5 separate regions of the Homo sapiens genome follow, and regions 1, 2, 3 and 4 are each linked to region 5. Evidence: fine-mapped expression QTL. A gene starts in region 5. Each other region holds a variant in brackets. All regions are shown on one strand. Distances are from middle to middle. Region 1 has its middle 61 kb from the start of GPC1. Region 2 has its middle 130 kb from the start of GPC1. Region 3 overlaps GPC1 (glypican 1). Region 4 holds the start of GPC1-AS1 (GPC1 antisense RNA 1). Region 5 holds the start of GPC1 (glypican 1).

Evidence for each region. PIP is the estimated chance that this variant, and not a neighbour inherited with it, causes the effect.
Region 1: its variant is fine-mapped to the expression of GPC1 in testis (GTEx, PIP above 0.99).
Region 2: its variant is fine-mapped to the expression of GPC1 in neural progenitor cells (Aygun 2021, PIP 0.92).
Region 3: its variant is fine-mapped to the expression of GPC1 in tibial artery (GTEx, PIP 0.95).
Region 4: its variant is fine-mapped to the expression of GPC1 in minor salivary gland (GTEx, PIP 0.95). The same link has a PIP of 0.9 or more in prostate.

Annotation. Positions count from the first base shown.
Region 1 is chr2:240,371,722-240,376,818 of GRCh38, reverse strand. No RefSeq gene overlaps it. Among named protein-coding and RNA genes, the nearest start is that of GPC1, 61 kb to the left of the region's middle. RefSeq lists enhancers at 2,237-2,791, 3,242-5,097. The variant C/T (reference allele first, on the strand shown) is at 2,441.
Region 2 is chr2:240,298,172-240,303,268 of GRCh38, reverse strand. No RefSeq gene overlaps it. Among named protein-coding and RNA genes, the nearest start is that of GPC1, 130 kb to the left of the region's middle. The variant C/T (reference allele first, on the strand shown) is at 3,023.
Region 3 is chr2:240,465,153-240,470,249 of GRCh38, reverse strand. GPC1 (glypican 1) reads right to left here. Exons shown (of 9, transcript NM_002081.3): 7 at 5,040-5,097; 8 at 4,602-4,777; 9 at 2,174-4,192. The coding sequence ends at 3,960. It also overlaps a transcript of ANKMY1 not described here. Among named protein-coding and RNA genes, the nearest start is that of GPC1-AS1, 11 kb to the right of the region's middle. The variant G/A (reference allele first, on the strand shown) is at 2,552.
Region 4 is chr2:240,455,561-240,460,657 of GRCh38, reverse strand. GPC1 (glypican 1) reads right to left here. Exons shown (of 9, transcript NM_002081.3): 2 at 1,470-1,628. GPC1-AS1 (GPC1 antisense RNA 1) reads left to right here and starts at 3,958. Exons shown (of 3, transcript NR_161169.1): 1 at 3,958-4,061. MIR149 (microRNA 149) reads right to left here and starts at 4,657; the gene lies at 4,569-4,657. RefSeq lists enhancers at 802-1,452, 1,453-2,102, 2,103-2,754, 4,707-5,097. The variant CG/G (reference allele first, on the strand shown) is at 2,749.
Region 5 is chr2:240,432,771-240,437,867 of GRCh38, reverse strand. GPC1 (glypican 1) reads right to left here and starts at 2,205. Exons shown (of 9, transcript NM_002081.3): 1 at 1,784-2,205. The coding sequence starts at 1,949. RefSeq lists enhancers at 1-204, 256-832, 2,566-3,142, 3,542-3,836 and silencers at 1,957-2,016, 2,077-2,736.

The DNA.
Region 1 (5,097 bases), 61 kb after region 5:
GTGGTTTTCCCGGAGCTCCCGGCTCGCAGGCGTGCTTAGGTGTTTCATCTGGCTCTGTCGCCTTGTAATTAGTATCGGTCCTCCCAGGCTCCGGTTCCCATCTGCCCATCTTCGTCTCCTGATAGGAAGTGTCTGTGTTTGTGTCTTCATGGGTGTCTGAGGACGGGACTGGAAGAAGCAGCTGGGCTGTGGGGCAGGCAGCGTTTTGACCTGAAGCTCTCTGAGCAGGCTGATCACTCAGGTGGGCCGCTCACTGCACACCTTGGACAGTGAGGCCCACGGGGGTCCCAGGTGGGGCGCCTTCCCCTCCCTTCCCAGGCTGGGGATGGAACGGGGCTCCCCAGGCTGCCACTGCCCATAGTCCCCAGCCCTGACTTTCCTGGACCTTTCTTGGCACTGCCAAGTTAGCTCCAGTGTGGGAGAGCTGGTGAGGACCTGGCTGCAGTCAGCACTTCCTAAACTGACCTTGTGCTCTGGAGCCCTGGACACATGTACCTTCCTCCCAGGAGGCCCTCTGCCCATGTAATAAAGATGGAGGCTCTCAAAGGGGGCAGAGAAATCATCCCTTCACACTCCTGGACGCAGAGGCCAAGTGGGAGCTGCTGGCACAGCCCTTTCTATGGAGGGATGGGGCGTCATGTTGCTTCACGCAGGCCAGGATGGCCCTGAGATGCCTCTATGGGCACCGCTCTCCAGCGAAACCTCTCCAGCCAGTCTGCCCGCTGCACTCCTACTCCGAGGTGAGGTCCCCCAGTGGCATCCCTCCTGCTACACCAGCTCCAAGATGTGACTCCTCAGTGATGTCCCCAGCAGCCCTCCTGCTGCACCAGGGGGCTGCTCTGTTCCATGTGGTGGAGTCCCAAAGGCCGGGCTGTTACCAACGCCTTGTTCTCTCCACACTCAGGTATGGGCCAGCATGTCTGGTAAGTGGTCCTTAAATGTTTTAGGGAAGGAAAAGTCCCAAGACCTTGAAAAAGACAAGTCACAGAATGAAAAACAATATTCCAACATATGTAACTGACGGGACTTGGAATCTAAAATATGTAAAGAGTACTGGCAAATCAATGACAAAACAACAGGCAACTGCACAGAAAAGCAGTCAGGGCACTGGGACAGGTGGTTGGCAGAGAGGAGACCCAACTGGCTATAAGATGTGTGCACAGGGACCAGCTTCTTGGTAACCAGGGAGACTCGCATCAGGACTGCAGTGGGTCTCCACCATGCTATCTCCTGGTTGGCAGGGGCTAAATGCTGACAGTACTGTGTTGATGAGGCTGGAGAGAAATGGGGCCTTTCATACTCTGAGTGGAAGTCACTGAAGTGACTTTGGGAACTGGCTGAACAACGCCTGGTCAACTTGAAGATGTAGATTCCCTGACTCAGCGGCTTTACCCTGGACGTGGGCACCCTGCGGAAATCGGGGCACGTGTGACGGCAGCACGATGTACACACACAGGAGGTCATGGCAGCCTTGCTCCTGGTAGCTGGAAGTCAGAAACAGCCCATGCGGTGTCAGGAGAATGGGGAAGTGCATCGCGTAGGGATGGAGGCGAAGAGGGGCTCGTCGATTCATCCGTAAACGGTGCCCACGCTGTCTGCGGGCCCCACTGCCTGGGCGTGCCATGCGACTGGGCCAAGCAACTTCTCGACACCCAGGCTGGGGAGGGCTTTGCAGCAGCTTGAATCCAAAGAGCGGTGGGGAAACCGAGTCATCATTCTGTAGCAGCTGAGAGCGTGAGTGTGCAGACTCAGGGCCCGGTGACACTGAGTTTCAGCCGAACAGCCTCATTCGGCAAGTGAGGTGAAGGGTAGCTTTGCTGGCTCTGTGTGACTGTTTGCATTTCATTTGCAAACACCTGGCTTTATGTTGCAGTATGCTTTAGTGTGATGAGCATGATTTCAGTCCACCCCGAGCATAGCACGAGTCCTATTCTCCTCTTAAAGACCCCCAGAGGAGCTGCTTCAGGGTTTGCTCTCTGGGGAGGAGCTGGGGTCACTGAGGAGGGGAAGCCCAAATCTAGAAAGTGGATGGCTCTTGGAGTGTCCCGGGGACTGCTGGGCCTTGGACAGGAGGGACGTGGCTGTGGTATTCTGAGGCCACTGAGCTGGCACGGGGCTGGACGCTCTGTCCTCGTCCTGACCGAGGTGGCTGCCACCAGACCCTCCTCGGGGCCAGCGTCCAGGAATCTGGGCACTTCCTCCCCTGAGACCCTGGCCCCACCCCGAGGCCCAGGGATCCTGGAAGAGTGTCCTGTGAGTGTCCGAGGGCAGACTTGCCAGATGGATTCCTGCACTGGGGCTGGGAGGCGTTCCGAGTGCGGCTCTCCCTCAAATGACAGCTTGTGATAGCGAGGCCGGCTGCATCATTCCCCAGGAATTCCCCTTGGAACGCATGCTGGCTCCAGGCTGCTCCAGGCCCCAGGCTGGCATCAGACGACCT[C/T]GGGCCAGGCCTCCTCCCCATCCTCCTTCTCTGGTCCCTTGAGGAGGGGAGGACACTTCTTCCTGAGGGCTGCAGCTCCCACACAGGCACCAGAAGCTCAGAAGCTCAACTTGGTGACATCACTGGGGCCTGGCCATCCCTGAACTCATCCCTGCTGAGTGGGAAAGGGCGAGGGCCTCACAGCCATGTCCGCCTCTAAGCTGGGAGCCTCGGGAACCCCCAGGCCTGAGTCACAATGAGACCAGAAAGGCCAGGCAGGGTCAGCATGCCCAGCTTGCCCTGGTACCCCAGTCCACCTGGGTCCAGGGGTTGGGAGGGGAGGCCAGGAAGGGTCAGCACGTCCAGCTAGCCCCAGTACCCAGGCTCACTGAGGTCCAGGGTTTGGGAGGGGAGGCCAAGCAGGGTCAACACGTCCAGCTAGCCCTAGTACTCGGGTACTTCTCGCCCTCCCTCCTAGGAGCCTCAGCCTGGGCTACTTCCCAGACCCTTGTTTTTGATTCCTCATCTTGGTTCCAGCACCCCAGGGGCCCAGCCAGAGTCTGAGAATGAGTACTGTCCATCGAAGGGGCTACCACCCGTGCGTGTAAGAAATGGTGCAGCCTCTGAGTGCTGTGTCCCGGATTGTCACAGAGGCCGCGCACTCCAGCATCTGTGTCCAGGCCACCTTGTGTGTGTTTAAGAAACAGTGCAGGCTCCGTCCGAGTGCTGTGTCCCGGATTATCACAGAGGCCGTGCACCCCAGCACCCATGTCCTGGTCCCCACAGCACCTGCGCAGATGCTGGGCTCGGGCTGGTGGGCTTTGGTCTAAGGAGCCTGGAAAGCCCACAGGTCCAGAGACCTGAGCAGAGTGGTGGGCGGTAAAGGGGCCGGGGAAGCAGGTACAGACCCCTGCCGGCCCCCGAGACTCGGTCCGCTGAGGCTGCTGGGCTGGGACCTGCATTGGCCTAGAAGATCCAAGCTGAGGCAAGAAGCGTGGCCTGTCCATGGGGAGTATTATGGACTGAATGTTTGTGTTGCCCCAAAATTCTTTAGACAGGGTCTCCCTCTGTCGTCTAGGCTGGAGTACAGTGGCATAATCATGGCTCACTGCAGCCTCAAACTCCTGGGCTCCAGCGATCCTCCCACCTCAGCCTCCCAAAGCTCTGGGATGACAGGTGTGAGCCACCACGCCCAGCTCCCGAATTCTTATGTTGAAATCGAACCCCAATATGACGGTTTTAGGAGGTGGGGCTTTGGGCGGTGATGCGGTCACAAAGGCGCTGCTGTCATGAATGGGTCCCGTGACCTTGTAAGAAGAGGCCAGAGGGCTCCTTCCCCTTCCTTCTGCCGCTTTAAGGACGGAATGAGAAGTCGGAAATCCACAACTCAGAGGACAGCCCTCCCCAGACCCCGACCAGGCTGGCACCTTGATCTCCGGCCTCCAGCCTCTGGGCTGTGAGAAATAAACTCCTGATGTTTACAAGCCACGCAGTTCATGGGGTTTCCTTACAGCAGCCCCAACAGGAGTGGCCCTGGGGGGACCTCCACAGCCCACCCACCACTTCCCACCCTCCATGGCCCTGCCCTCCGTGCCCTGTCCTTCCCCATGCCCCTCCCCCCACCACAGCCCTGCTCCCTCCTTGCCGTGCTCATCCTCCACACCCATGCCCCTAACCACAGGCCTGCCCTCCTCTATGCCCCTTCACCCCTACCACAGTCCTGCCGTCTCCACACCCTGCTCCCTCCATGGCCTGGCCCCCCTCCACATCTTGCCCTCCATGACCTCCCCTCCTCCACACCCCTGCCCCTCAACTACAGCCCTGTCCTCCTCCGTGCTCCTTTTCCTGTCTACAGCCCTGCCCCCTCCATGCCCTGCCCCTCTGCCACGCCCCTCCCCCCACCACAGCCTGCTCTCGTTGCCCCCTCTTCCCATCCCTCCCACATCCCTCTCCCACCTGCCCCTCTCAGGGACTTGAGATTTCCTCCGCAAGAAACCTCTGTGGGGCTTCACCAGGCCTCTGCCCTACCCAGGCCTCAGGGTGGGTGCGCCTGGGACTTCAAAGGCCCAAGGAGGGCCCCAAACTGGCTCCTGCCCAGGCCCAGAGCACAGATCCTCCTTGTTCCCAGCCCAGGCCCTCCCCCAGCCCAGGCACACAGCGGTCTGGAGGAAACCCTCTGGTGGCCAGCCCAGGGGACCCCCACGCCCCAGCACCCCCACCAGGACCACTTCTGGGCTCCTCTGGGGTCCTGCAAGCTTGGCCCTGCCCAGGACCCTCTCAGGCTGGTGCTGGGCCAGTGTTCAAGGGTGGGTGAAGGGCAGAGAAGGGCACCTCTCTTATTTCTGGGGCAGTCATGGCTGCAGCAAGTTCCAGAAGCTTCTGCAGAGACTACCTGGTGAAGTCTCAGAAGACCCAGAGAGGCAGCCACCAACTCAGCCTAGAAACTCAGCTCAGACTGGCAGAGAGGGCAGCCCTAGCTTGGGGGCCCAGGCCAGCGGGGAAGACTCGGCCAGCCCCAGGCACGGCGGGCATCATCAGGACAAAATGCCAGGCTCCACGCCACCATCCAAAGTCCCAGAAACAGTGGCCAGCTGTCCAGGGCCCGCCACACCCGAGCCCACCTCGCCCTCACTGCTCTCCTGACTCCTGTCCTTCAACTCATTGGCCTGCTGTGGCTT
Region 2 (5,097 bases), 130 kb after region 5:
GGCTCACTCTTGTTGCTTAGGAGTAGAGAGGGTGAATGGAAGACCCAATAGTCAGACCTGGGCTAGAGAAGGCAATAAGGGGATAGCACTGAGCCTTAGGCAAGTGGGCTGGCACCTCTTATAGAAGGACAAAGTCTGGCCTCATCTGGACCTGGTCCATGGGATGCTGCCCTCTTCTGCAACAAGGACAGTGAGCCTGGTCCACAGGATGCTGCCCTCTGTTGGAACAAGAGCAGTGGACCTAGTCCATAGGATGCTGCTCAGGTGTTTCTCTCCCTTTCTGGGGGTCAACATCTGTCCCACACCCTTGAACCAATATGAGTGACTCCCAGCACGGCTCTGGGTAACATCTACATCTCCTGCAACAAGCACAGTAGGCCTGGTCCATGGGATGCTGCCCTCTCTTGGAACAAGGCTGGTGGACCTTGTCCATGCGATGCTGTACTCTCCTGCAACAAGAATAGTGGACCTGGTTCATGGGATGCTGCACTCTTCTGCAACATGGATGGTGGACCTGGTCCACGGGATGCTGCAGTCTCCTGGAACAAGGACAGTGAGCCTGGTCCACAGGATGCTGCCCTCTGTTGGAACAAGAGCAGTGGACCTAGTCCATAGGATGCTGCTCAGGTGTTTCTCTCCCTTTCTGGGGGTCAACATCTGTCCTACACCCTTGAACCAATATGAGTGACTCCCAGCACGGCTCTGGGTAACATCTACATCTCCTGCAACAAGCACAGTAGGCCTGGTCCATGGGATGCTGCCCTCTCTTGGAACAAGGCTGGTGGACCTTGTCCATGCGATGCTGTACTCTCCTGCAACAAGAATAGTGGACCTGGTTCATGGGATGCTGCACTCTTCTGCAACATGGATGGTGGACCTGGTCCACGGGATGCTGCAGTCTCCTGGAACAAGGACAGTGGACCTGGTCCACGGGATGCTTCATTCTCCTGGAACAAGGATGGTGGATCTGATCCACGGGATGCTGTACTCTCCTGGAACAAGGGTGGTGGAAGCAATTGGTCATTGCCAAGAGCATCAGGCTGGGCACCTGAATACCTAATGCGATGGCAGGACAGCTTACAAAATCAAGGGCATCAGAAACCCTGGACTGAGGATTTTCAGCCACAGATGGAAAGGCAACCTGTGAACGTCTTGCTCTCTGCTTGTGGTGCACACTTGATGCCTGGCCTTGGAGTATGGAGAGTGAGAGCCACTCTGTGTTGGCAGATCTCTTCTGCAGGTTTAGGGCTCAGGTTGGCCTCCCCTACTCTGCTGTGCACCATCTGACTTACCGAGGGTCTCCATCTCCTTCTCGTAGTCTCTGGCTTTGACAACCTTAGAAAACAGCTAACGAAGGAAGAGTCAGTGGTGACCAGGGGCTCCCTTTTGAATCAACTAATTGTGATAAAATATTTGACCTGGTTTCACTAAAATATGAGAAGACCGTTTTTATTCCCAAATGGTGGGCCCCAGCAGGTTCCTCCCCCTGGCCTGGCCCTAGCCCCCATTGCCCCCAGGACACAGTGAACACTCACAGCAGGCACACGGGCTGGCCACGATCCTGTCCCTGCTGGTGTCTCTGATTTCCTCATTCCTGCCCCCAGCTTACCCTCCTCCCTGGCATGCAGAGCCATACGTGGTCCTTTGAAGCTCTGTGGCCTCCGAAACTTCTTGTCCTTGGTAGGGGCTGTGCTCTGTACCCGGAGCCGCTTCTCTCCCTCCCCTAGCGGGTGTCCTGCACTCCCTCCTGTCGGAACTGTTAACGCTCAGCCGTCATCAGGTCCTCCCAGCCCCTGGGTTCCTGGAGGGCAGAGCCTGTGTCCAACTACCTTTGCCTTTCCAGCACCCACCCCAGTGCCTGGCACAGAGCAGGTGGCATGAAGTGAGTATTGGGTGGACATATGAATTACCAACAAAAAGAGAAGGGCAGTGGGAAAGGACGGGTTTTGTCCCAGGCTGGGGAACGTACTCATCAACCCTTGTGTGTGCTGGTAAATGTTGAACAACGGACTCTCAAAGAAAAAACAAAGTCCCCTATTTCTAGTGTTTGCTGATTCCCATGGTGTAAACACTCCTGGCATGGCTGACTTCAAGCTGATGATGCAGAGATGGGAAGAGGACAGTGGGCTCTCATGAGCTGGCACGAGCTGGCTCAGGCACACGCTGGCGCTGGGTCAGTCCCCTGTGCCAGGCCCTGGGGGCTGTTTCTCCATCTGTCGACTGTCCTTCGAATGAGGCCCCAGGGAGCTGTGAGTTCCAGGCCCAGGCATACTCCTTGTTCATGAAGTGGATAGGACCCTGAGCTGGAAAAGTCAGGGCAAGCAACTGAGATCGGCTCCCAGAGAGTCGGGAAATGGCCACAAGACCAAAAGCCATGGCTGCGAGGCTGTGTGCTTCAGAAAGTGGCCCTGAAGTGTCCATTCTGGTCTGAGACTGGATTCAGTGTTTCCAGCCAGACTGGTCTCCCGTTCTCCTGCTGTGGCCTGGGACAGGCCCAAGTGAGAACATCTTGTGCTGGACCACAAACTCAGCCTGAGCTCCGGATGGCTGGGAGGGGCCCCCAGCCCTTCCTCAGAAGGCTCTGGCTCACGTCACAGGCATGCTCTGCCTTTCCCGGTGCCCTCGGCACCCCCACCAGTGTCTGGGGCATCGTTTTTGTCTATCTCCCTTCCCCTGATCCCGAGGCCCAGACTCCCGCCTGGCCTGTCAGTCAAAGGCTCCCTGGCCAGGCAGGGTGCTGTTCTGATGCCTGAGGACCCACCGTGCAGCAGGAAAGGGCCGCTCACTCCCATCCAGACAATTGCCCAGGAATGCAGCTGGTGTTGGGCTCTGTGCTGGCTCTGGAGACTCAGCCAACACCTGCCTCCTGGGGGTCATGGTTTTGGGGTCTGGGAGCCTGCTTTCACAGTTTATGAGGCAGCTCACACACAGCCACCAGGTGCACGATTGCAGGAGTCAGAGGGAGACTGGGGAGCATGAGAATGACAAGGGTGCTGTCACAGGCCAGGGCCCAGAGTTAACT[C/T]GTCCCTGTTGAGTGGCAATCAGCATTTAATTTGCTTTGCCACCCGCCCCACTTCTCTCTCTCTCTCTCTCCTCTCTTTCTCTCTCTCTCTCTCTCTCACACACACACACACACACACACACACACTCACTTACTCTACCATTTTATTACTGCTGCCTGAGATGGTAGCTATGGATAAAGATAGAGCCCTCCACTCAGAAACACTTTTTGAGGCTGAAGTGAAAGAACTCCCACTTCAGAAATTACAGGGAATGTCTGTCTTCTAGGTGGAGACTGACCAGGCATTCGAGGCAGAGCCCCCATGTCTGCAAGGGCCGCCCTGTGGGACCCTTGTCTCCCAGCTGGAAGCCACCCACATCCTGCCTTGGGGAGAGCTGTCTGCAGGCTGGTGACGCGCATGAGCTGGCTTTAGGCTGGGATGGAGGCACACCCTTTGAACACACTTGGCCGGCGGGGAGCTCAGCAAAGGGACCACACTGTCTTGGTGTTTTTTCTAAACCTGAGTTCGGAACCCACTGCCCTCCTTCTTATTTTTGGAGGGGTGTGCATCCTAGCGCTGGTCCAGGAGATGAGTGGCCCAGAGCCGAGCCTGTCTGGTGGGAGGCCTGGGTGGGCCTGGCCACTGTGACGTGGCTTCAGCAGTGACAGTGATGGTCTCATTCAGGGGACCACAGAGTCAGCAGCACCCCCTGGAGGGAGAGGATGGGCTTTCTGCTGTCCCCCTGGAGAGAGGGTCATGGGGAGGAAAAGGCTCACGGTGCCCTGGGAGGGCACTGCCCAGTGGGCCAGCCTGAGGTGGGCCCTGACCTGGGTGTTTTCAGGGGTGCTGGAGTGGGAGGCAGGGGAGACACGAAGGGCCTGAGGAGGAGGCTGCCTGGACAGGTCTGGAAGGCATGTCTGGGTCCCCAGCTGATGAGGTCGAGGGAGCTCCACGCTGTGCCCCCTGTAGCACCATGCCTTGCCAAGGCCCTCATCAGCATCCAGGCAGGCTGAGGAGCCCGGAGGAGGCCAAGGGCAGAGGTGTGGCCAGGAGGTCACAGGTGCCAAGACATGCGGCCAAGGAAGGGACAAGGAAGCTGGGTGCAGCCCCTGCAGGAAATGCCCAGAAGGCCTGGACGGGGCAGCTCTGGGGACCGTTTCTGGACCTCAGACCAGCAGGGCCCATCCACAGGATTCCAGACCAAACAGGAAGTGTGTGTAGCCTGGTTCTGGGACCACAGCCTGTCAAGCGGAGGACACTGAAGAGCAGGCCACGGGCTGCACTCCTTGGACTCTTGTTTATGTTCCTTTTGCTCCTTAAATTAAAATTGGACACAGCCTGTGCAGAGGGTCACTTAGAATCACGCAGAGGCCACGTGCACACACGACCGTGTGCTTGCAAATGATCCTGCATGGGGGGCTTTGAGGCCCGGTTTGCCCCTTAGACAGTGCCAGTGCCTGGAATTTATATTTGTATTTCTATCTCTGTTATTTATGTTCATGTGCTCCCCCCAGCAAAGCTAAGACAGGAACTGGCCTTTTGAATCACATGGGCACCATCCTGACTTGACTTGGAATGTTCTAGAACAGGCCTGCCAACATGGAGACCGAGTCTCGGTAAGGGAGCTGCAATCAATGCTGCAGAGCACCTGTTTTTCTTCCAGGTCTCTGAGGTGAGCAGGGCTCGTGTTCCGACACTGCTTCATGGTGGGCGTTGTAGGCAAATCCCCTGAAAAGGTTTTTCTTTCAGAAAAAGAAAGACTTTATTCCATTGAGCAGTCTGCAAACCAGGGAGACGTAGCCTTTGGCATGAAACAAAAGTGTGTTCTGAGAGAAGAAAGAGAGGGGACGTCATTTATAAAGTTCCCACCCAGGTTCCCACTCTGGTCCACTATGAAAATGCGGGATACAAACTTGCTGAGCTCTGATTGGTTGGCACAGGCGACAGCCCATGGTTGGGTCCAGATGGATTTCCCAGGAGTGGTGGACAGGAACAGGCAGCTATGGAAGCCCCAGAGTGCTGTGAGTGTGGGGTTTTCTGGGAGCGCACAGTATGTGTGTGGCCTTTAGTCAGCAGATGGTCTCTTGGCTCTGTT
Region 3 (5,097 bases), 32 kb before region 5:
CATGATTTCAGTAGTGGCTTAGGGCAGGAGGAAGGTGGACTGAGAGGTGGGAGTTAGTCGTCTGTCCCAAACTCAAGGGAGCACTGCGATTATAAATGGTGTTTCTCGACAGAGGGCCTTGTCCCCAGATAAAGAATACTTAGGGTCACCTGGACAGGAGCAGTGTGTGCACCCACGGGTGTGTCTGTCTCTGTGTGAGTGCATGCGTGTATACTGTGCATGTATGTAATGTGTGCATGTGTGTATGGGCATGTGTACCTGTCTACATGTGTGCACGTGCATAGGCCTGTGCACATGTGCATGCATGTGTATGGGCATGTGTACATGTGAGTGCATGCATGTGCAGGAGGATGTGTGTGCACGTGTATGGATATGTGTGCTTGTGTGTGTATGCACAGGGCATTGTACGTGTTCATACCTATGTGTGTGCATGTGTGTACATGTGTAGGAGTGTGCACATGTGCATGGGCATGTGGGCATGTGAGGACGTGCATGTGCAGAAGTGTGTGCACGTGTATGGATATGTGTGCTTGTGTGTGCATGTACAGGGTGTTGTATGTGTTCGTTTGTGTGTGTAAATGTGGAGTGCACATGTGCATGTGTGTGCACCGTGTGATGGGTGTATGTTCGTGTGGAGCAGACACCCATGCTGGCCTGCCGGGGCTGCCTGCAGATGGTGTGGGAGACGCTGGGGCCACCCACCACGGCTGGGCTGAGCTGCTCAAGGGAGGCTGACTGAGGGGCTGCTCTCTGCCCATCAGTGTGGGTGGGTCAGTTTGTCTGTGGCTTCTGGAATTCCTGTGAGGAACCGAGAGGGACTGAGAGCCAGCCCTGGCTGGAAGGGGTCTCTCCCTGAGCAGCCTCTTGGGGCAGCACTAGGGTGGGCAGAACTTGGGAGCTCCCTGGTGGTCTGAGGTGTGGCCGGGAAGGCAGGGCTGAGACCAGCCGGGTGCCCCTGCCCACCCACTCCTGGCGTGGTGTCGGCTCTGCACAGAGTGCACACGCACCTGTGTCCTCCTTTCCCTGACATGAAAGATGCATTTGCCCAGGTTCAAAAAGGGCTTGTGGAAGTCTTGAAGCAGCTGGGCAAGGTGGTGCCTGGAAGCCTGAGATCCTGCCGGCTGGACCAAATGCGTTGTCCACAACTACAGCCGCTGATGAGTGTCTGGCTGCTCACCTGTCCCCTAGGGGCCCCGCTGAGCCCCCAGGCTGCATCCCCTGGCCCGCCACGGAGAGGACTCCACCCCACCCTCATTTCCCAGGGGAGGAGCCGGGCCTCTGGGACTTGCGGAGGGGCCTGCAAGTGAGGACCGTGGCTACCAGGGACCTGGCGGCTGCAGATGCTTTGTGGGAGGCCTGTGTGCAGCCCTTCGTCCTGCCCGGAGCTGGGACCTACTAAGCAGTGGAGTTCAGCAGGGCTGGGTGGAGCTGCATCTCCCTCCTGGGGTGCCCACCCACCCCTCTGTGCTCTCACGCTCACAAGGGGCCTGGAGGTCCCAGTTGCTAGGGGGCCCTCTATTCCTGGGTCCCAGATGATGGAAACGCAATGTTAAAAATGTTCACCAGACCAACCTGTACTGGCTGCAATTCTCAATAAAGCAGTTGAGGGACACACCCAGAACAGTGGGCGCTTCTGCCAGTGCCGCCGTGCCACTTAGCCTCTGGCCATGACCCCACAGGAACAGGAGCGGGGCTATAGGGAGCCCCTAGGGTTATACAGGACCCTCCGCCTCGAGAGAAAGGTGGCTGGGGACAAACTGGACCACCAGGGCATCCTTGGGACAATGCTGGTTCCTTCTCTCTAGCCCCTTGGGCATCTCTGAGGCCACCTGGCAGGAACCAGAACCTTCCAGGGGTAGAGGATCTCTGTGCTGTGTGTGCCCAGAGCAGGGGCAGGAGGCAGGAAGAGGTAGATGGGAGGTGGGGCCTGCTGGAGGCCATCTGGGTCTCCGTGCCCTGGCCTTTTCCTTCTCCCCTGCACCAAGGAGAGGGGCGGACAGACCGGAGTCTGTCCAGGGCAAGGTGGAGCTGCAGACAGGCTGAAGGGCGCAGCTGGCAGGGGCTGCACGTTCACCCCAAACACGGAAGTGTGGTCCATGCCCAAGCCCCAGACAGACAGACACACACACACATACGCACACATTCTCTCTCCCCCCGAGGCCTCGCCCTGCTGTAGGTTTCCAGCCTTTTATTCATACAAGGACTCAAAAGAACACACGTCACCCGCTGACACTGAGCGGTGGGGGGACCTTGTGGAGGAAGGACACAGCAGGCTTGGCCACTGCCCTGACCAGTGACCACTCAGGGCTGCCCCTTCCAGAGATGAGCGTAGGGTGGGGTCTGAGCGCCACCCCTAGGCCGTCTGTGTGCAGCGGGAGTGCTGCTGTCCTGGCGCCCGGCATCACTGTGCCAGAGTCCCCAGCCCACCCTGGCACTGGCAGGGTTATTATGGGGTGGACTTGCCTGTGTTGGGGGCTCCTGATCCCAAAACATCTAAAGTCAGGTTCCAGAGAACAAGCCATGGGGACCTGACCAGCAACCGGGGACCTCC[G/A]TCCACTGTGCGGGACGGTGATGAAAAGCAAAGCAGCACTAAGCGGCCTCCTCAGGGTCAGTCGGTTCAGGACAGCTGCCCCCAGACCCTCCAAGTCCTCCTCCCCCTGCAGGACCCCTTCCCAACACCACACCACCCCTCCCCAGGGCCGCCTGGCAGCTGGGGCACAGGAGGGAAGGAGGGCCCGTCCAGGCCTGGGGCAGGGCCCTGATGGCCTCAGTGAGTGACAGGAGGTCACCAGGGTCCAAGGTGGGCCCTGCGGCCCTCCGAAGCCATCTGGGAGGAGCGAACAGCTCTCCATGAACAAGGACAGGAAGTGTCAGTAAATGGATGCATGTTTGGAAAAGCCCTTAACTATCCAGGTCCCCGTGCCCTGCAGCTGGCTGGGTCGGGAAGGGACCTAGGCATTCCCGTCTGCAGTGCGGGGTCTCACCAGCCACCAGCATCCCTGTGAGCAGGTGACAGCTGAGGGTCACTCTGAGCCCTGACCTGTGTCACCGTGAACAGGGAGGCCCTGGTTCCTGATCTGGGTGAGGATGGGAGCAGGCGGGTCCTGGCTGCTCCTCAGCCCTCGGGGTCCTCCAACAGCCCTGGACCCCAGCAAGGCCTGCCCTGTGAGCCCTGTGTGCGAGGGGCAGCCCACATTGGCAGAGCCCACGCTGCCTCCCTGGGCCTTTGGGCCCAGCTTCCCCTCCTCCAGCAGAAGCGCAGGTGGGTCAGTGGCCCCTCATCTGCGCATGGAGGGCCCCTCACTGCAGGTCTGTGGGAGGACAGTCCTCAGACTCCTCAGCAGTGGTGCTGTCTCAGGCGTCACCCTGCAGACGCTGGGGCCCCTCAAGGGCGCAGGGAGGTGGGGCCGGGCTCTGCAGCCTGCGCTGAGGGGAGGGCATCATGCATCATCTCAGAGGCTCTGCCAGACCCTGGATGGCGGACACCCAGACAGCCCGTGCGGGGCTTCTCTGGAGGCTGGGGGGTGGGCCAGGGCTGGCTGGTGGGCTCTGCTGGGAGTCCCAGTGGGAGGAGGCGGGGAGGAAGGCACAGGCTCGCTGTGGGCTCCAGCGGGTTGCTTTGAGGCCTCCTCTGTAGGCCTCGAGGGGCTGCTTCTGCGGCGGTGCAGGGAGCTGGGGGGAGGGCTAGGCAGCCGGAGGTGCCCCTGAGGTCCCTGAAATACATGGCTTTTGGGCACACTGGCTCCCAGCTGACCTGAGGACCTCATACAAAATTAAAAGGCAGAAAGGCAGGCGAGGCCAGGCCTGGGGCTGGGACCTCTGCGCCTGCCCCTGCTCAGAGCCGCCGGCCCTCCCTGTCCCACCCCAGGCCTCTCCAGGCTGAGGTGAATTAAATATCGTCTGTGTTGTATTTTTGGCAAAGTCAGTCCTTGGCCTCTGTCCCTGGGGCCTTGGGGCAGTTACCGCCACCGGGGCCTGGCTACTGTAAGGGCCAGGAAGAGGAGGAGGGGCAGGAGGAAGGTCGGGGGCTGGGGGCAGCTGGCAGCCGAGGTCTTCTGTCCTTCCTGCTCTGACAGGCCTGGGAGGGCATGGGTCAAGGGCGTCCGGGAGCTGGAGCTCTTCCTGCTGACCTTCCGGCTGCAGAGGTCATCCAGACAGCCATCACCGCTGCCCGAGCCGCTGCCGTCGTCACCTGGGAAGGAGAGGAGGCTCCGGCAGGCAGGTCCCCACAGGAGACCCCAGTGCAGCACCACCCTGTAAGGGCCCGTGCCAGGTGACCCCAACATCCTTTCGGTGTGGAATCCCAGGACCAGCAGCACCTGATCCCCGCTGACCCCTGAGGCTGGGAGACTCTCACTCCCTGGGGCTGCCTCCCTTGGTCCCTGGAGCCAAAGCCAACAGACATCCCGGCCAGGCCTCCAGGGCGCCGCAGAGGTGCAGGGCTCGGTGATCGTGCCTGGGCAGCACAGCGTCCTCAGACTCACTGTGGTGATGCCGGAGCAGAGGGCCCCTCGGGTGGGGGAACCCGGAGGGCAGTCACACCCCTGTGGCACCCCCACCAACCCTGGCCCCTTGGCCGCCCGGCCAGGCCCTGCCCTCACTGGCGTCCTGGAAGTCCACGTCGTTGCCGTTGTAGGCGCTGCGCAGCCGGTTGGTCATGATCTTCAGCTGCATGATCTGCTGCCGGATGGTCATGTCCGGCTTGGTGATGTCCACCTCCACCTCGGGGTTGTTGATCTGGTTGGCCAGGCCGTCACCCATGACCTCGGGGAGGTACCTGGGGGAAAGGCAGGCAGAGCCCAGGTCACTGCTCCAGCCCCTGCAAAGGGCCATCACCTGAGCAGGACACTCTCCCACGCTCTGAGCCTGAGATGCCCAGCAGCTTCCAGGGACCGAGCAGAGCCCACACAGGCCGCAGAGAAGTGGGGCTCAAGCCCTCCAGCAAGGGACGTGGCCCCGTGCAGACAGCACCTGGCCCAGGCACAGCCCAATGGAGGCGGCATGGGAGGGAGGGCTGTGCCAGCCAGGTGGGCACCTACCGGCCTCTGGCCATCCCGTTCCAGCAGCGGTCATCACTGGCAGTGCTCAGGGCCATCT
Region 4 (5,097 bases), 23 kb before region 5:
TCCAGAGGGCAGCAGAGGGAGGGCGGCGGCAGGGCACTGACACGGGACAGGCCCCAGAGCAGGGCAGCGACACCAACCCCCTAAGAGCCAGGAGGAAGCAGGCGGGCAGGATGTCCCCAGGCCAGGAGGATGGTGTGATGGGCAAGGGTATTAGCAGGAGAGGGGAAGGGGCAGGGCTGGGTGGCACGCTGGGGCGGGAGCCAGGGCTCAGCGGCGCTGGGGAGAAACTGAGGCCCAGGATAGAGTGGAGGAGGTGAGCCGGGTCCCTACACATGGGACAGAACCAAGTGGCTCAGGAAGGCTCCTGACTCAGGGTGCAGGGGCTCGCTCCCCGGGTCCAGCTGGGCAGGAGGAAGGAGAGTCCCAGAGGGGCCACGCGCATCCCACGGGCCCCACACCAGCGGGGAGGGCTGAGCTCTGAGCATCGATGTCCAAGTCACAGAGAGGGAGCTTCTGACCCACTGCTACCCAGGTGTACGCCAACAGCTGAGGTCCCACAGCCCTGTGGAAATGGCCTTGGGGGCTCCTGGGGACAGGCAGACTCTCCCGGGAGCCTGGGAGGCCACAGCAGGTGTCCAGGAGCCGGAGAAGCAGGAACGCTGAGACAAACCCCAGGGCCCCAGCAGCAGCTGCCGTCCCTCACAGCCACAATGGAGCCCTGCAGCCTCAGCGCTCCCTCCCTCCTGTCTGCCCAGGCTCACTGTCCCGGCGCCCTGGCTCCGCCCGGACACAGGGGCAGTACCTCAGCCCGGGCCGCCTCCCTCCACCAAGTCCTCGTGTTTCTGATCAGAGGTCACTTCATGGAGGACCTCCTGACCCCACACTGTCCCCCTGGGGGTGGCTGCCACTCTCTGCCCAGACACAAGGCGAGGCCCAGCCTGGGCCGAGGAGTACGTGGCTCTAATGCAGCAGCTGGCGGGGCCTCAAGGCCTGCAGGGGTCACTCCCCGCGGCCCCCAGACTCCTGCCCCGATATAAAGGGCTGAGTGGCGGCCACCCCAGGCAGGCCCTGCACTCTGCAGCCCTGTCCCCAGCCCCAGTCTCAGCCCTTGCACTGAGCTCCCTGGCTCCAGGCCACCTGGTCCCCAGGGGCAGTGGCCTGGGGCACTTGACGAGCTGCAGGCAGGATTTGGCCAAGGCCTGTCTCCCTGCAGGTGCTCAGGAGAATCTGCTGGTGACAGGAGCCTCTGAGGGGCTGATGGGATAGGCCCTCTGTCCCCAAATGTGCACTGGGAATGGGCTGTGCACACTCCCAGGGGGGTGTCAAACCCTGCAGATCCCTGCCTGAGGGCAGCCCCCAAATCCCAGCTGGGGCTTCAACCCAGCGCCCTAGCCCCAAAGCACTAACTCCCCCACCTCCTCCTGCCAATCCCCCACCCTTGGCATTGACACACCAGGCAAGGCCCAGTGTGCCCCTCCCCCGATGCACCGGCACCCTGCGGGCCCCGAGCGCCCGTGGGAGGCACTCACCATCGAAGCTGCGCAGCTGGGTGGCAAGCATGGCCTGCAGGACGCGGCTGCTGTCCCGGAGCGCGGTCTCCAGCTCGGCATGGCTGCGGTTGGCCAGGTTCTCCTCCATCTCGCTGGTGCAGCAGGTGTAGCCCTGGGGACAGATCCGCAGGTGCTCACCTGTGGGGAAAGGCCAGTGTGAGGGAGAGGGGCTGGGACAGCACTGGGAGCCAGGAGGGCACCCTCAGGCTCTCCTGGGCAGGATGGCAGACCCAGGGTGGAGCACAGCTCAGGGGTGGGCCAGCCTGGGGGGTGCCCTGGGTGAAGGCAGAAGTGGTCGGGGTGTGGAGGGAGGAAAAGGCCTGGCTTCGGTCCCGTAGCTTCCCACACGTGACACAAGAGCACGGCTGCCTCTACAGGGCAGGAGGCCCCTTGGGCAAGTCCTGCCCCCCAGCCTGCTGTCCCAGCAGCTGCAAGCAAAGAACTGGCCTCAGGTTCCTGTGTGCAAGTGTGGAGAAGGCTCCCAGGCCCGAAAGGCACCCCTTGCCTGGGCCCATGTCTGAGGATGGGGAAGGAGGAAGGAATCCAATCCCCCTCTCTTCCCACACCAGCCCTGGGGGGCACCAAGCTCCCACTGCAAGGACGGCAGATCCCACCAACAGTGGGCTGGTCAGAGGCAGTGGCCCTGCAGGACCCCAGGCACGAGTCTGGTATGGGGGCAGGTGTGCTCTGGTGCAGCTGGCAGGCCCCATGAAAGGGTCATTGGACCATGCCCCAAGCCCTGCAGGGTGCACCCTGTGCCTCCTGGTGTCCTTGTGGAGTCCCCTCCTCTGCAGCCTGCCATGAGCTACTCTGCTCCAGCGTCCGAGGCAGTGACAGCGGCACTGCCATCAGAGACAGCTTCACCTCCTTGTGGGGAGTGGGGACAGGACAGGCTTTGAGTCAGCTCTCAGCCCTGCTGTGCACACCTCAGGGCCCACCTGGAATGGGTGTGTGGCATCAGGAAAAACTGCATTTTTTAAAGGGTGTGCATCGCACTGTGATGAAGGCTGCCGCAATCCTCATTTTATTAACCAGAAAACCGGGGCTTACAGGGATGAGGTCTCGTCCCAGCTATACAGTGAGGGGGCAAGTGGTTCCGGCTGCCTAAGCTCAGGACTCCACACTGACGGGGCCACACTGTTCCTTCTGGGCCTCGTCCCCCGCCTCTAAGGCCCTCCTGGTGCTGGCCTAGGTCAGGCACAGTGGAGAGGTGGAAGCAGGAGCCTGGCTTGGTCAGAGGGGTGGGGTCAAGGGGGGG[CG/G]TTGTCAGCAGGAATTCCAGCAACTTTCCTCAGGACTGCCGCCTCAGGGGCCTGTCTCATCCTGTTCTGGGACCCTGGGCCAGGGTGGCTGGAATGCAGCAGGTCCTGCATTCTTTTACGCCCTCCTGAGGGTCAGCAGGAAGTGAAGGCCAGGCCAGGGAGGAGAGGCAGGAGAGGGAGCCAGGACCGGGACCGAGGGCGGGGTCAGCCCGGGCAGAGGCACCTGGCTCGAGGCTGTCCTGGGGGAGCTGGCAGCAGCTCCAGCCCTGCCTGGAGGTGGGAGCAGGGATCTGTAGCCCCACTGCAGGCAGGGCCTGGAGCAGCGCAGGCAGTGCCCTACCCGCTTACTGCAAGAGAAGTCACCCCTCAGGCCTGGGGTCCAGGAAGCCCTTACCCACTAGAGGCCATCTGGGGTGGGGACCCAGGACTAGGTAACTACCCAGAGGTTGAATGCCTGGGTCAGACTGAGTTTGCTGATCTTCCGCACCCTCTAAGTACACACACTCAGGGAGGAGCCCGAGACAAGAGAAGGGAACAGAGAACCCGAATCCGGGCTTGGGCGGCTGCCGCTTGGCCCCTGTAGCCTCTGTGCCTGCTGACATGACAGCAAGGAGACAGGTTGTCAGAGGGGCCTGGGAGAGCGAGGGAGGGCCGAGGTAGGGGTTCTTATCCTGGAGCGCTCCCTCCTTGCCCTCTTTTCCTGTCTGAGTTCTGGAATGTACTGATGCAGGGGGCTCTGGCTTGAGCTAGAGGGGGAGGGAGTCCTCCGCAGGGGCTGCAGGTCCAGGGATTCCCCAGGGCCTGGACTTACATGTGCCCATGCTGCAGACAGAGCGGGAATGGCAAGTGCACCTGCGCCCCCCGCCCCTCCTTACCTCCAGATGCCTGCTGGAGGGGGAGTTGGGGGTCCAACAGAGTCTGGGGCCAGGAGGGCCTTGTGGGAGCCAGCTGGGGTGAGGACAGAGCCCGGCTCTGAGAGCCCTGGGGCCTAGTAGAGAAGGGGTGCTCCTTCCCCACTCCTCACATGGGTGGGAAGGCGCCCTCAGGCAAGAAGACTGGGACACAGGTACACTCGCCAGGGACCATCCTTCACTCTGCAGCCTTTATTCACTGATGGGATTCTGCCCCAGTCCCACCCCCGTGGGGGCAGGATTTAGAGCAGGAACCGCCCCTCCGGGTCCTTTCCTGGGGCCTGTGCCAGGCTGAGCAGACTCAGGAGGCGTCTCTCCGAGGGTGTGGGCTGTGATGGGGCCCTGTGCACCCATCCAGGCTGCCCAGACCAGGAGAGCACAGGTCAGCCGGACACATGATGGTAATGGGCTGGGCAGTGGGAGGGAAACGTGCCTGGGGGAGGGGGTGGCAGGTGCCAGCTGAGCTTCCCGGTGACACACCCTGGGCTCAGCTGAGATGGGCTCAGCTGTGACGGGGCACCCAGGCCAGGCTGGCTGGGCCACAGGAACCGAGTGAGCTGGTCCAAGACTCAGGACTAGGGCTCAAGCACTCCTAGGGAGGAGGGTGGGTGGCGTCCCCCGCCGGCTCCTCCTGTGCCCCTCCCTCGCGAGGTCCCGGCGGACCCACTCCCCAGCCCCCACCACGCAGACGGGAGAGGCTGACGAGAGGCATGGAGAGGTGAGGCCCGAAACACCCGTAAGATATGGGAGCTCCCCCCACCTGCAGGTTCTGAGGGGCTCCTCGGCGCCGTCAGCCACCTCTCACACCCCCTCACGGCCGCGCACCGGCCCCCGCGCCTCAGCCTCCCCCGCCGACCCCTCAGCCCCGCCCGGCCAACTCGCCCAGCCGGCCCGGCGACCTGCGTTGTTCCAGCTGCCCCAGCACAGCCCCCGTCCCTCCCTCCCTCCTCGGACAAGCACGGGAGTGAAGACACGGAGCCAGAGCTCGGGCGCCGGCCTGGGAGCCCCCGGCAGGCTGGACGCAAGGCGGGCGAAGGCCTGGGAGCCTCGGGCAGGCTGGATCGAGGCGGCCCCCTGAGGCCCGCTGCAGGCTGGACGCACGGCAGTCAAAGGCAGGAGGCCTCCCGCTGGCTTCCTTCTGCGGAGCTCCGGCCCGGCGCAGGCCGGGGCCACAGGTTGTGGTCCTGGACATGAGATGGCAGAGGCCGGCTCTGCAGAGTCCCCCTGCAGGGCGGCAAAGCAAGCCCCCTCCTGGAAGAATGCCAGGGGCTGGGGCCTTTCTGAATGGAGAGCAATGTGCCCAAGACCAGCTGTCATCTTAAATCTCCCCACCCAGGGGCCTCCCCACCCCCAGGGGCCTCCCCACCACTTCTCTCAGCTCAACACCTGGGGATAGAGAGGCCTCAGGCCAGGAGGGAACCCTCCCCATGTCCCTCT
Region 5 (5,097 bases):
AGTGGCCTGTGGATGCAAGGAAGGTTAGGTTGGCTCCTAAGGATGCAACTGCCCAGAGGACATGGAGGTGCTAAGAAGGGCTGGGGGCTAATGGTTTCCAAAGGAGCAGGGTTCAAGACTCTGGGCTGGGAGGGGCAGCCACTCAGCCACTCTGCTACCCTGGTGCCTGGGGAGGGATTCACCAGGAAGGCCAGGGATGCCTCTTTATGTGTGAGTAGAGGGGCAGAGAACGAACCCAACTGTGCCGAGGGCCTTGTGCTGCCTGGCATCCAGGTGTGCCCCCTACCTGGGACAGACAGAGCCCAGTGGGGTGAGGGGGGCAGCCTGGAAATGACAGGGTTGCCTCTGCAGAGGCACAGGAAGGCCTGTCCTGGGGACTTTGGAGGGGTCCTTGCAAGAACCTCAGGCTGGTGGGGAGGGCATCGGGAGATCCGCCAAGGGACTGTCTGCGGGTTCTGTTCCTTCTGTGGGGGGCGGTCAGGGGGCCCTTACAAGAACCTCAGGCTGGGGGCATCGGGAGATCCACCAAGGGCAAGGGGCTGTCTGTGGGTTCTGTTCCTCCTGGAGGGGCAGGGGTCCAGAGCCCGACTGCCTCCTCCCACCACTCCGCCCCCCGCGGCAAGGCATGGCCACAGACCCCCCTCACCCAGATGCACGGATCCTTCTTGCTCAGAATCCCCAGGACCATGGGCATTTCTGCGCTGAGTCCCCATCTGAGTAGCCCTCCACCCGCACTCCCACTCCCCTGGTTTCAGAGGAGCCCCCCAGAGCAGGAACCTAGTCTGTTTTGTTCTTGCCCACTGGGTCCCTGGCACGCGGTACAGACCGAGGTTGGTTCCCACACGTGGAAAGGTGAAGCTTGGGTTCCAAGAGTTCCTTAGCACACGGAGCCCACCGTTCCACCCACCCGTACACTTCTGTCCCCAAAGCTCCTCCGGGACCACAGGGAGGGAAGAGGCAGAGCCGCAGGCGGCTGCAGGGCTTAGGGGGCGCCAAGAGGGCCGCTGTTCTTACAAAGAAATGACACGGCCCCTGGGCGGGATCCAACGCGCCGACCACCTGCAGCTGGACTCGCGGCACGAGGCTGCCCAAGCGCCAGGCGGGGGCCGGCGCGTACAAGTTCTTCGACAGGAATCTCTACGAGGCGGCGGCGTTCCGCCCGCGGATAAGTGCCCAGCTCCCTCCCCACCCCTCCGCACTACCCCCCGAGGGGGTCAGCTTATAAAACCCACCTAGGCTGCCTTTGCTGGAGACCCTACGAGAATCCCCGGGCAGGACCGGAGACGCCTCCCAGAGAGGTCTGTACAGAGCAGAAGGGGTCCGCGGCCACCGTCAGCGGCGCCCCGAAAGCCCGGCCACGCCGAGCCCCACAGCGCCCCGACAGCCGGCCCCGGGGCTGGGACTCCCGGCCTGCAGGCGCGCTGGGCCGAGCGGCGGGCAGAAGACGCCCAGCTCCAGCCGTGGCCCGGGAGGAGCGCCCCGAGCCCGCAGCCCGGCGAGATCAGCTCCGCAGGGAAGAAGCCGGCGTGCGGGGGGCGGGGAGGGGCGGAGGACGACCGAGCGGGGCGGAGGAGACCCTGGCGAGGGAGTGCGGCGCGGGGCTTGGAGGCGAGGGCCGTGGGGTTGCAGAGGAGCCGCAGCGCAGGGAGCCATTCGGGGCCCGGGCGGCGGGGCGCAGGCGGCAGGATCCCGCGCCGGGGGCGAGTAGCCGCGTCGGGAAGACCAGGGTCCGGAGCCCAAAGCCCGGCCAGGCCCGGGTTCCCGGCGCCGCGCCCTCACTCACCCGAGATCTCCGCCTGGGGCACGTCGCTCAGGCTGAAGCCCTTGGCTCCGTAGATCTGGCGGACCTCGCCGCAGCTCCGGCTCTTGCTGGCCGGGTCCCCGCGGGCGCAGGCGACCAGCGCTGCGGCCGCACATAGCAGCCACCAGCCTCGGGCCCGGAGCTCCATGGCGGGGCCGGCGGCGCCCCCGGCCACCCGCCCGCGCCTCTCTCGGATCCTGGCCGGGTCCTGCGCAGTTCCCGCCCGCGAAGGGCAGAGCCAAGGTCCCGGCGCGCGCGGCTCGCGGTCCAGAGGCGGCGGCGGCCGAGGAGGCGGAGACAACAAAAGCCGGCGGCGGCGGCGGCGCGGGGCGCGCGGGGTGCGAGGTCCGAACGCTCGCTCGGGCAGCCCAGAGCGCGGCGGGCTAGCGCAGTCCCGGCTCGGCGCCTCCCCCGCCGCCGGCCCGGCCCCTAGGCGGCCGCGGGAGAGGAGAGGGGCGGGGCAGGGTGGGAGCGCAGGGGTGGGGGAGGGACTGGGAGCACCGGGCGGGGCGGGGCGGGGCGCGGCGCGGGGGCGCGGGCCGGGGCGCACTGGGCGCTCCTCTGGCTCTTAGGGACCCAGAGGGCCCGCCTGGCCGCGCGACTCTATCGATCCCCGGCGGGAGGCGGCGGAGCCGGGCAGCGCGGGGCCGCGGCCGGGGTCCCCGAGGGCGGCCCCCCACGCCCAGCGCCCAGGGCGGTGGCACCACCTGTGGGGGCGGGGACGGGGGCGGAGGGTGCGCGAGGCAGGGCTTCCCCCGCCGGACGTGACATCACGCCTCCCGCGCCCCAATCAGGGGCCTCCCCGCCCCCAGCCGAAATCGGCATCCCGCTCCCCGCTCCCTCCCGCGCGCTCCGGCTTCCTGCACCCTGGCAGCGCGCCCCGAGAACGCTCTCCCGGCGCCTCCGTACCCTCCGCCCGCCGGCCGCGCCTCGAGCCGCCGCCCCTCTCCCCGCCTGCACCCCGCAGCGGCTCCCTCCCCGCGCCCTTCCAGCCGTCTCGCGCTGGGCTCCGGCTCGCACCGGGGGCTTTTGTGGTGTGGGGGCTGCACGCAGGAAACTCGCCAAGAAACTCGACCTCACCTCTCCCAGTCCCAGGGAGCGGCAACAGATGGCTTAATTGTTGGACCTTGACAGCTGTTTTGGGGGGGTGACCCTCCACGTTCTTTGGATGCTGGAGAAACCAAAGTGATGGGGCAGGGCCGGTCTACTGGTTTGGGCTGCTGGGTGGGGCCAGATGACCTCTGGAGAAGGGATAGGGTTGGAACCCGGCGACTAGTTAGGCCACTGGGGGAGGAGGGTGGAGTGAGCCGGAGCAGATGCCTCTTTGAAGAAGGCGGGAGGGCTGCCTGCACCTTGTATGGTAGGAGGGCGCGTGGCTTTAGCTGCACATGGGGAGTTGGGCTGGATGGGGTCTGTAGGGAGGGGGCGAGGACTGCGATGTTGGTGTCTGGAGGGCTTCACTCCTTCCTTGGCTCCCAGACCCCCCACCCCGGCCCCCTGTTCTCCACATGGTAAGGCCTGGCGGTGAAGCCAGGTGCCTGAGCTGCAGAATTGGGGGCAGGCATAGAGGTCAGTATCCTTGGCAGAGAACCTCAAGATGACCCCCATGTACAGCAAGGGTGTCCTGATTTCAGGGCCTGTGGCATCACCTGGAAGCTGCAGCGGGGTCCGTGGTGGGGGTGGTGGCAACATTCCCTACCCCTTCTGTGCCTGGGGCTCTCAGCCGCTGTGTGGGGCTGGAGCAGGAAGGTGGGGTGCCCTCCCCCTGGGCTCTTGGGGTTTCCTGCCCTGCCTCCCAGAGAAGGTTGCTCCTTCACCCAGAGACACTGAGTCATTGCTGGAGAGGGAGGCTTTGGGGACCCAATCCAAGTGTGCATTTCCCTGCCCTCCCCCACATACCCTCTGCTGCGTCACATTTTGTGACTCACAGACCCCTGTTCAGTACATGCTCCAGGCTTGCTCCTTCTTGCCTGGGCCTGGCGTGGCTGCCTGCACACCTTATCCAGCACGGTCAGGAGCCTGGGCCCACGATCCCGCTCTCTCTCTGTGTGGTCTCACGCACTGCGGGATCAGGCAGGGCTGCCTGGGCCTAGGAAGCTGGACTTGAGGTTAACCCGGCCTGAGGCTCTATAGTTACCCCGTCACTGTCTACGCCTCCTCTTAATCTGACCAGGTTGGGTTATTCCTCCAGGCAAGTCCTTCCTCCAGCCTAGTTCTGGGCCTCTGGATGGCAGTGTGGACAGCAGGGCTTAGAACGCGATGGTGGCAGCCTCTGCCTGGCCCTGGTGACCCCTGGGTGGCTTCATCTCCTAAGGAAGTCCTTACCACCATCGCAGGTCCTGGAATCATTCCCATTCCGCAGGCCAGGAGACCTGTAGCCAGGGCCTTCCCTGGAGAGGATGCACATGCCGCCGGGGGCATTGGAAGCAAAAGCCGTGTTTGCACCTGGGAGGAGCCGCAGGATCCTGAGCAGCTGCAGCTACCCCTGCTTCCCTCCTGGCAATGCTGCACACGCCCGCTGTCACCAGGGCAGGAGCCGCCAGGCTGCCCGTGCTAGTCGGGTGCAGGGTCCAGACTGGGACTCTGGGAGGATGGGCAAGGCTGATCAGCCCCCTCTTCCACCGCTGTCCCTGGGGCCGCTCCACACAGGACACGTGGATGGGTTTGAGGACATAGTTGATGCCTCGAATCCCAGCCACCACAGTGACCCTTGTGGCTCTGACCAAGACCACCCCCTCCTGCTTTGGTGTCTTTGCCTGGCTAGACAGTGGGGGCACACGTATGCGACACAAAGAAGGAATGAATGAGCAAGTGAGGAAACACCTGAGAGGAAAAGTTTGTCCCTGAGAGTGGGCGTGTGGCGCAGCCTGGACCTGCTCTTCCACAGGTGCAGTGAGGGCAGAGGACACTTAGCATTGTCTGACGGGCTGAGGCAGGCAGTGCCTGTTGGGCCAGGGCGTGGGGGCCTCCCTTCCATGCCCCCATCTTCTGTGGAGGACCCCAGGTCCTGGAGGGCGTGTACTGCTGGCTTAGGGCCCACTCCTGCCTCTGCCTAGGGAGGGTGGGGGTCTGCGGGATGCTGAGCCTGGTCTCTGCTCAGAAGACACAGGGAGCGCCGGGGGGCCCGCAGCTCCCAGCCGTTCGGACGGCAGGTCTGCCCAGAAATTATCCTACTTTTGCTCCGTGGAACCCTCGTGAGTGTGCACGCCCTTGCCCGCTGCCATGGACGGACAGCTTCCCTTTCTGTTTGGTTTCAGGGATTGTCTTTCGGAGACTCCAAAAGTAAGTTTCCAAAC